Linked DNA regions of Homo sapiens. The protein of the gene in region 1 interacts with the protein of each later gene in a pairwise test. Each region holds a gene or a part of one and is shown on either strand. Other genes may lie near its edges.

Region 1 (3,749 bases):
CTCTTTGTAATAATATAAGAAACTTTAAAAGTTGGGTGAAGTTGAATTCTACCTCTGACAAATGGTAGTACTTCTTATAACCACAGGAGGGTGTGTGTCAGCCGGCTCCCGAAGACAGCAACTTGTTCCTTCTCTTTTCTACATAACTCTAAATCTGTTTTCCCTAAGGGCCTGTCAACTGCTTTCTGTCCTAGGGTGGATCGATTTTATTACCAAACGTCTATGGAAATGGAGCATGTGGAAATATTTTCAGGTGGGAGGGGGTGAGAGGACCAGGAGAAAGACAGGATTTACAATATTCATGTCTGATGTCTAATTGGCAAAACTCACAGCATGAACATTCAGGCTCTTAAGCTGGCAACGTTGGCCTTTGTAATTTTCAGCTGAGATGAAGTACAGAAGATTGTTAGTTCTTAGAACATAATTTTCTGTGATAGGCAGAAGCAAGCTGCAATTTGGTGGCATGCAAAGCGGGGAGGATTCATTTAACTGGATGCATATGGAAAGCTGACTCCACGGACATAGAATTCCCCATTCAGATCTGATAGCCACCTTCCCCTTTACTCCCTTATTTATCATTCTGAGAGCAAAGTGTTTGTCAGGTACATGTGTGGGAAAATATTGTTTGCTAGTAGCAATGTTCCCAAATTCTTACTCACTTAGCCCCATGAAGGTTGCCTGGCAAAGCATTGTTTCATTTGAAGGAAGAAATCATACTGGGGAGAAATAAATCTCTATTCACAATGTTTTCCTCTTTTCTGTCACACATGGTGTGTGAGTTACAATACCTGATTGACTAGAAAGTGCCAACATTATGTTGTATATTTTTTCACTTCCATTCAAAGTGCCCAAGACTATTTTGACAGTTACACTTTTCTCTTACTGACTTTTTCTTTATAGAGCTGAAATAGAGTTATTTGAAAAGATGAATTCTGTTTACCCTCTGCTCTTCCACACAGCTTTGCTTAGTTTTCTCAGTCTGTGGTTGAAATGTCTGAAAGGAAACAAGAAACAAAACTTCACCCACTAGAACATTCTATTTCATTAACTTCTTCAAACAAATGTTTCATTTATTTTTCTCTCACTGAGTTGTATTATTCACTGTGGAAAATCATTCTAACCAAAAGAAGATTGACACACTCATCGCATTAATATAATATTTGTTTCAATATTACGAAAGACAGTGCCAGCTTTCTGCCCCCAGAGGGAGACAGTGCCGTCTCCACTACAGAACTGGATTCAAGCTCAGACAACCGCTAAGTGGGTGTGGTGGGGGAGTAGGGAGGGATGGCACCCCAGACGAAGGAGCTTGGCTGCCATCAGAATCCACTGAAAAAGAAGTTTTCACTGGCAAACTGGGAGTTGTTAAATATAAGTGAACTAAAATCAGAGTTTGACGATTTAAATTGTGTGTGTGCATTAATTATATAAGTTGAGTAACTGTAATATTGAATTAAGATATGATGCTGCTGATGGCCCAGGGAGAGTCAAACCATAGCCGTTCATGTGAATGGTAGGATCGCAATTAAGGACAAAAACTTATTGCTGCCAGATGTTACATTCTGAGAAGGAAAAATGGAGGTGGCCAGCAGATTAGGATAAATTCTGTTTCTTGGTTTGACATAAAGTGTCAAAATTTCTTGAGGGTAGCGTAGGGTGAGGGGTAGCTATTGAAGCGCAGAAAGGGCAGAAATGAAGAAAGAACAGACCTCGGCAGTTTGTCCCAGTCCTTTGGGCTGAAGTTTGCATACCACAGGAAAGCACACAGAACAGGGACCCTAAAATCTGAGAGCAACTGTTTTATTAAAGGAATAGATGTAAGTTCTTTAATTCTCAGTATTTTTCATTTACCTCTTTCTTTCAGAAACTCCTAGCCTATCTCAGATGTGGCACTGGGAACCAATGGGCGGACTGGGCCGTGTTTGAATGGGTGTGCTACAGTGGAAGCAGGCATCATGGTGGATCAATCATATAAAAGAGAGAACCCCTTAAGGGAAAGATTGAATAAAGAGATAAACAGAAAGAGGGCCGCCTAGGCCAGCTGTCCTATTTACCTGGAAAGTGTTCTTCCTGAAGAAGCCTTAAGCTTCTATATTTTGTTTAATACAGACAGGTTGTTGCTTGCACTAAGATATTGGGAATGCCCCTGCTTGCTCTCAGCTCCTTTGTATCTCCAGCTCAATCTGAACTGATTCCTTCATTTCCCAAGCTCATTTGCCCTCTGTGTTCAGACTGGGTTTGGGTGAAGGAGGCCTGGCATGAGTCTGGAGGGGGGGAAGGAGAGAGAAGCCAGGGTATGTCCTTCTCTACTCTCCGTGTTTGGGGCTGCATCTCTAGAGTTGGGTACATCTCCTTTGTGGTCCTAGTTCCCCCAGCCAGGGGCCTAGGAGCAGCACCTTTTTTTTTCCTTCCAGCCCTAAGCCTGGTAATAGCTTCGATCCTTGGGTGGTCTCACCACCCCTGGTTGGCTTTTCTGTTCTTCCTTATACTTTATAGCTAGCTTCCCTTAGAAAGTCGCTCTACTGAGCTCCCTGTAGTGGATTTTGTTTTCTGGACTGGACTCTGGCAGATAAAATCATCTTCAAAATATAAAACTCAGAAGTTTAGAAAGCACCTCCATGGCTGGACTCCAAGGCATAGCTGCCTAATATTCAATTCCATTCTAGAAAATAACAATAGTTTATCAATAACACCTTCTATTTATAGGACTCTTTATAGTTTGTAAACTGCTTTTGTACTTATAATCTCATATGAGTCCCAAAGTAACCTTTATAAGATGAGCAGTAGAAGAAACAGAAGTGCCTACACTCATAGTTGGTAGTTGCAGTAGAAGTAGAGAAGATATTTTAATTTAAATCTTCTGCCTCAAAGTCCCAGGGTTAAAATAATAAATTTTTGAATGATTAAATATGAAAAAGCATTTAGTAATAAGAGGAAATGTTCCTAAACTTTATATTAATTATCGTCAAGGCATCTTTTATAGTTTTATCCTTTATTGCATTTCTTATGTTGATTCTTATATGATCATGTGAATATAAATTTGGACAATTATATCACTCTTCAAAAATATAAAACCAGGGCAAACAGTTCTGGAAATTGGACTATAGGAAGAAGAAAGCATAAAAATGAGATGGGCAGATATTAAGCAAAAGAAAGAAATGATAGTATGGGGTGTCAGGGATCTTCTTACAGAACACACACACACACACACATATGGATTAGAAACATACTTGACAATATAGAGTACCTCGGTACAGTTTTGATTTATTGTGACTTATAACAAAGTCTTTCTAGTCTAACTGCATCTTGATGAATATTAACCGAATTGCATAGCCTAATAAACATTCATTTTCTTCCTTTTAAAAATCATTTAGAATTTGGCTTATAATTCTAAGACGTATGCAAGTGGCTGAGTATATACTAATTTCTTAAGCCACCAATCTATCATTTAAAAATTCAGGTAATTACTAAAATGGCATCTATATACCTGGAAGAAAACATCATATTTAATGATTCACAGTTACAAATGTTGCCTCTGCATCCTTGCTGAGCTGCTTTCATTTGAAATACGCATCCCTCCCTTGTCCCCTCTATACCCCCAAGCAGATGTCTTAGGCTTGAATGTGGCCCTGTAATGGAGATGGCATTGTCTGCCTCTGGGCAGGAAAGCTGGCATCCTCTTCTGATCAGTGGTCACTGAATCAATGTTGACATAGCACATTTACTGGAAAATGATGAGAAAGCCCCAC
Region 2 (3,749 bases), on another chromosome or scaffold:
TCTAATCCCTCCCATGTCTTTTGTTTTTTGAGACAGGGTCCCTCTCTGTCACCCTGACTGGAGTGCAGTGGTGTGATCATGGCTCACTGCAACCTCAGGCTCCTGCTCAAGTGATCCTCCCACCCCAGTCTCCAGAGTAGCTGAGCCCACAGGCATCCACCACCATGCCCAGCTAATTTTTGCATTTTTTATAGAGACAGGGTTTCACTATGTTGCTCAGGCTGGTTTTGAACTGCTGGCCTTAAGCAGTCTGCCCACCTCAGCCTCCCAAAGTGCTGGGATTACAGGCATGAGCCACCATGCCCTGCCCCTCCCATGTCTTTGAAATGCTTTCCTGGAAGAATGTTTCACTTTGTTGACTTTCCCTAGCATATGTCCCCTAAGCCTGTGTCTCTCACTGGGACTTTTGTCCTGAATTCTGAACCTGCCCCTCCTGTGTTTCCGTCTGCCTCAGCTATTCTATCTCCAAGTAACAAAGGCTAGAGCAGAGTTGTGTTTCAGGAGTGGACTGGGAGTAACGAGGGCTGGAGAGGGCAGGGTTAGAGAGGAAAGTGACGGTGGCCTGGTGACCTGTGAGGGGAATGCTGAGTGTGTGAGTGCCTAGTCATTGGGCAGCTTTGCAGCATGGGACTAGGAAACCTACCCCACTAGGCCTTCTCCACAGTCCAGGATACAGAAGTGCCTGGCAGCTGTGGTGGCGGCCCCTCTGGGGAGCACACCCATGTGCCCTATTCTCTGGGCCCTGGTGCGGTTGTCGCTCCTCACCGGGCCTGGCTGATGGCATCCTAGCTGGCCCTAGAGTTACTTCTGCTGCTCAGTCCGTGGAGGCTGTGTGTGTCACCAACTGGGTCCTCACGTCTCCTGTGTGACCAGCAGCACCACAGCAGAGCACCGGCTTTGGGGCGCAGCTGTGTCACAGCTGCCGCGTTGGCAAGGGACAGGCCTCCATGCCTCGCACAGAGTTTGGTGAGGGGTTGGGCTCAGGGCAGTTCTGTGGCCTTTGCTTTCTTGTGATCCTATTTAGAAGTGGTCATGAAGCCCCTCCTTGGGATCTTGGACACTGATCTTTCACAGTTTACAGCAGTTGCCGTTCAGCTTTATATTTAAATAAATTGCCCTTCTGGCTTTAGTAGTGTCTTGAGGACACGGAATGTGCGTGCCACCTGATTCATGTTGGAGGGTGTCACCTTTGCTCACAGAGGCCCACATGACCAGGCCCCTTTTCTCTGAGGGCTCTGTGAGACTACATCACTTAGGCCTCTCCCCTGTTTGGCCGTTCCCTCTCATGGCACACTTCCCCTTTCCTGACCTGGCCAATTGAGAAGTCTGCAGAGGCCCAGTGTTATACTAGATGCACTTTCCTTAAACTCTAGTGGGATGTGAGACCCTCTTCTGTAGCAACCTATGTATCCCAGGATTGAATTTCCTGTGTGACAATGACTTATTTGTGTGTCATCCCCCTGCCAGCTGTCAGGGGTAGAAGACCAGGTGTCACCCTTTCGTCTAGTGAAAAACAGGCACTCGAGAACACCCAGTTACCGTGGGATTATGTCACGCCCTCAATGGGTTGTTTCAGTCCCCCTAATGGTGGTCCTGGGAGTGGGTTCCTCACTGCTTTGTCACTGATGAAACCAAGATAGAAAGGACTTGCCAGGGTCACACCTGCAAGAAGGGCTGGGGCTGGGCTTTGAACTGTGGTGATCATGACTGTTTTGCCAGATGCTCTGCTATCTAATGTTTATTTAGTGATTGTGTTAATATCTGGCCCTTGTACATGTCTGGTCTCTGGTAGTAAATGTTTATAGAATTAGTAAAGTGCTAAGTAAGAAATTTATTAATAAGTGGGTATCATTTGCACTGAGATTATTCATGATCTCTTCACAGGGAGCTGAGTCCTCAAGAGAGTCAAGGGAATTTTTAGGAAGTTTTGAAAAACTGACATAGTTTTCCATTTTTAATTTCTCCAAAGGATCACTACCATTTTCTTTCAAAATGCTTCATTGGTACTAAGGGATATTTATTGAAGAAGTGATACTATATTGATACTTTTTTTAATCTTTAAAGTAATATGACAACTAAAGAGGATACATTCTGAATTTGATTTTCTTTTTGTCTAGAATAGACTTCTTTTGTAGATTTGCATTATTAAAAATATAAAATATAATAGACATTCTGGCCAGGTGTTCACAGCCTGCAGGTATGAGCTTGGGAACAGTAACAGCTGGCATGGGAGAAATAGGATCAGAGAACCGAGAGCAGCTTTTCCTCTGGGCCAGGTGCTGGCACAGTCAGGAAGCTGCTGGGGACAGTCCTATGGAAAGCGTGACATCAAGTCCTTATTTGGCTCTTTTGCCCAAATTAATTATGCTCCCATTTTACTGTTTGCTTGATGCTTGAAGCATCCTGTGATTTGGTGTAATTGGCATGTACTTGTATACAAACCCTAAACTTGCCTATGCATTAAAATTTTTTGGAAGTCATTATTCCCCCAAAAGTATGCTGATTATTTAAATTACGTAGTTGAATAACAAATAATCAAATATTTAAAGAGTATTATGACCAGAAATTAAGACTCCAGATGAAGAAGGGCCTGTTAGAATCATGACATGCTGCAGGCGTGGTGGCTCATACCTGTAATCCCAGCACTTTGGGAGGCCCAGGCGGGCCGATCACGAGGTCAGGAGATCGAGACCATCCTGGCTAATGCGGTGAAACCCCGTCTCTACTAAAAACACAAAAAAATTAGCCGGGCATAGTGGCGGGTGCCTGTAGTCCCAGTTACTCGGGGAGCTGAGGCAAGAGAACGGGGTGAACCCGGGAGGCGGAGCTTGCAGTGAGCCGAGATCGCGCCACTGCACTCCAGCCTGGGCGACAGAGCGAGACTCCCTCTCAAAAAAAATAATAATAATAATAATTACATGCTGCATCAGGGCTGGGCACTGTGCTGGGGGCTGAGGGGACAGTGGTGGTCAGATGGCTCTCCACCCTCAGGAGGCTTGCAGTCCTGCTGGGGAAATGTGAGGCTGGAGATGCAGTGGTAGGGGAGGCTGTGGGAGGGAAAGCCCATCAGGAAAAGCTCCGTCTAGGGGGCCCCCAGCATGCCTGGAAGTCTTGTGCATCTGCCTAGAGCTGAAGCTTTGGGTCTGTCCTGGCTTTGCCAGGCAGCCAGTTTTATTTCCTTTGTTCACCCCTATATGGCTCCAGTCGGTTTTGGGGTGGCAGCTAGTTGTGGAGTGGAGCACAGAGTTTGGCAAACATGAGCTGACAAGCTGATTCGGAAAATATCCTCAGAGCACAGGCCAGCTAGCAACTGGCAGCTGAGTGGAAAGGTTCAGTCCTCTCGGGCAGCTCCGGTGGCACCTAGAGGGGAGAGGGTGCAGGCTTTGAAGCCAGAAAGACATGGATGCAAGTCTTACTTTGCTTCTTGCTGTTACCAGTTGGCCTGACCTTAGGAAATGTTATTTAATCTCTCTCCAGTTGTTTCCCCTGGAGAAAGCCCTGTCAGCCTGAGGATCCAAGACGCGTACGTAAAGTGTCTGATTTCAGCCAGTGTCCCTTCCTGTCCCTTCCTGGGGTGTGTGTCGGTTGCCCTGAGCGACCGGCCATGGGACTCTGTCGTGATAACCAAGCTTCAGGGTGTGGGAAGAGGACAGTCAGTGCTTCCTTGGGGCATCACTCGGTAACATCATGGGCATAAACAAAAGTACTCAGTCTTCAAGGTCATAAAGTAACCAGAGTGTATTCCTTTT

Evidence for each region. The genes of interacting proteins can lie anywhere in the genome.
Region 2: the proteins of MEPE (region 1) and ZXDC interact in binary tests that used the Homo sapiens proteins (3 or more experiments, as listed by UniProt).

What each region holds. Positions count from the first base shown.
Region 1 is NC_000004.12:87,835,877-87,839,625, reverse strand, and holds part of MEPE (matrix extracellular phosphoglycoprotein isoform a precursor), read right to left. Parts: intron 995-3,749; coding exon 941-994; intron 1-940. UniProt on the Homo sapiens protein: Promotes renal phosphate excretion and inhibits intestinal phosphate absorption. Promotes bone mineralization by osteoblasts and cartilage mineralization by chondrocytes.
Region 2 is NC_000003.12:126,462,229-126,465,977, reverse strand, and holds part of ZXDC (zinc finger protein ZXDC), read left to right. Parts: intron 1-3,749. UniProt on the Homo sapiens protein: Cooperates with CIITA to promote transcription of MHC class I and MHC class II genes.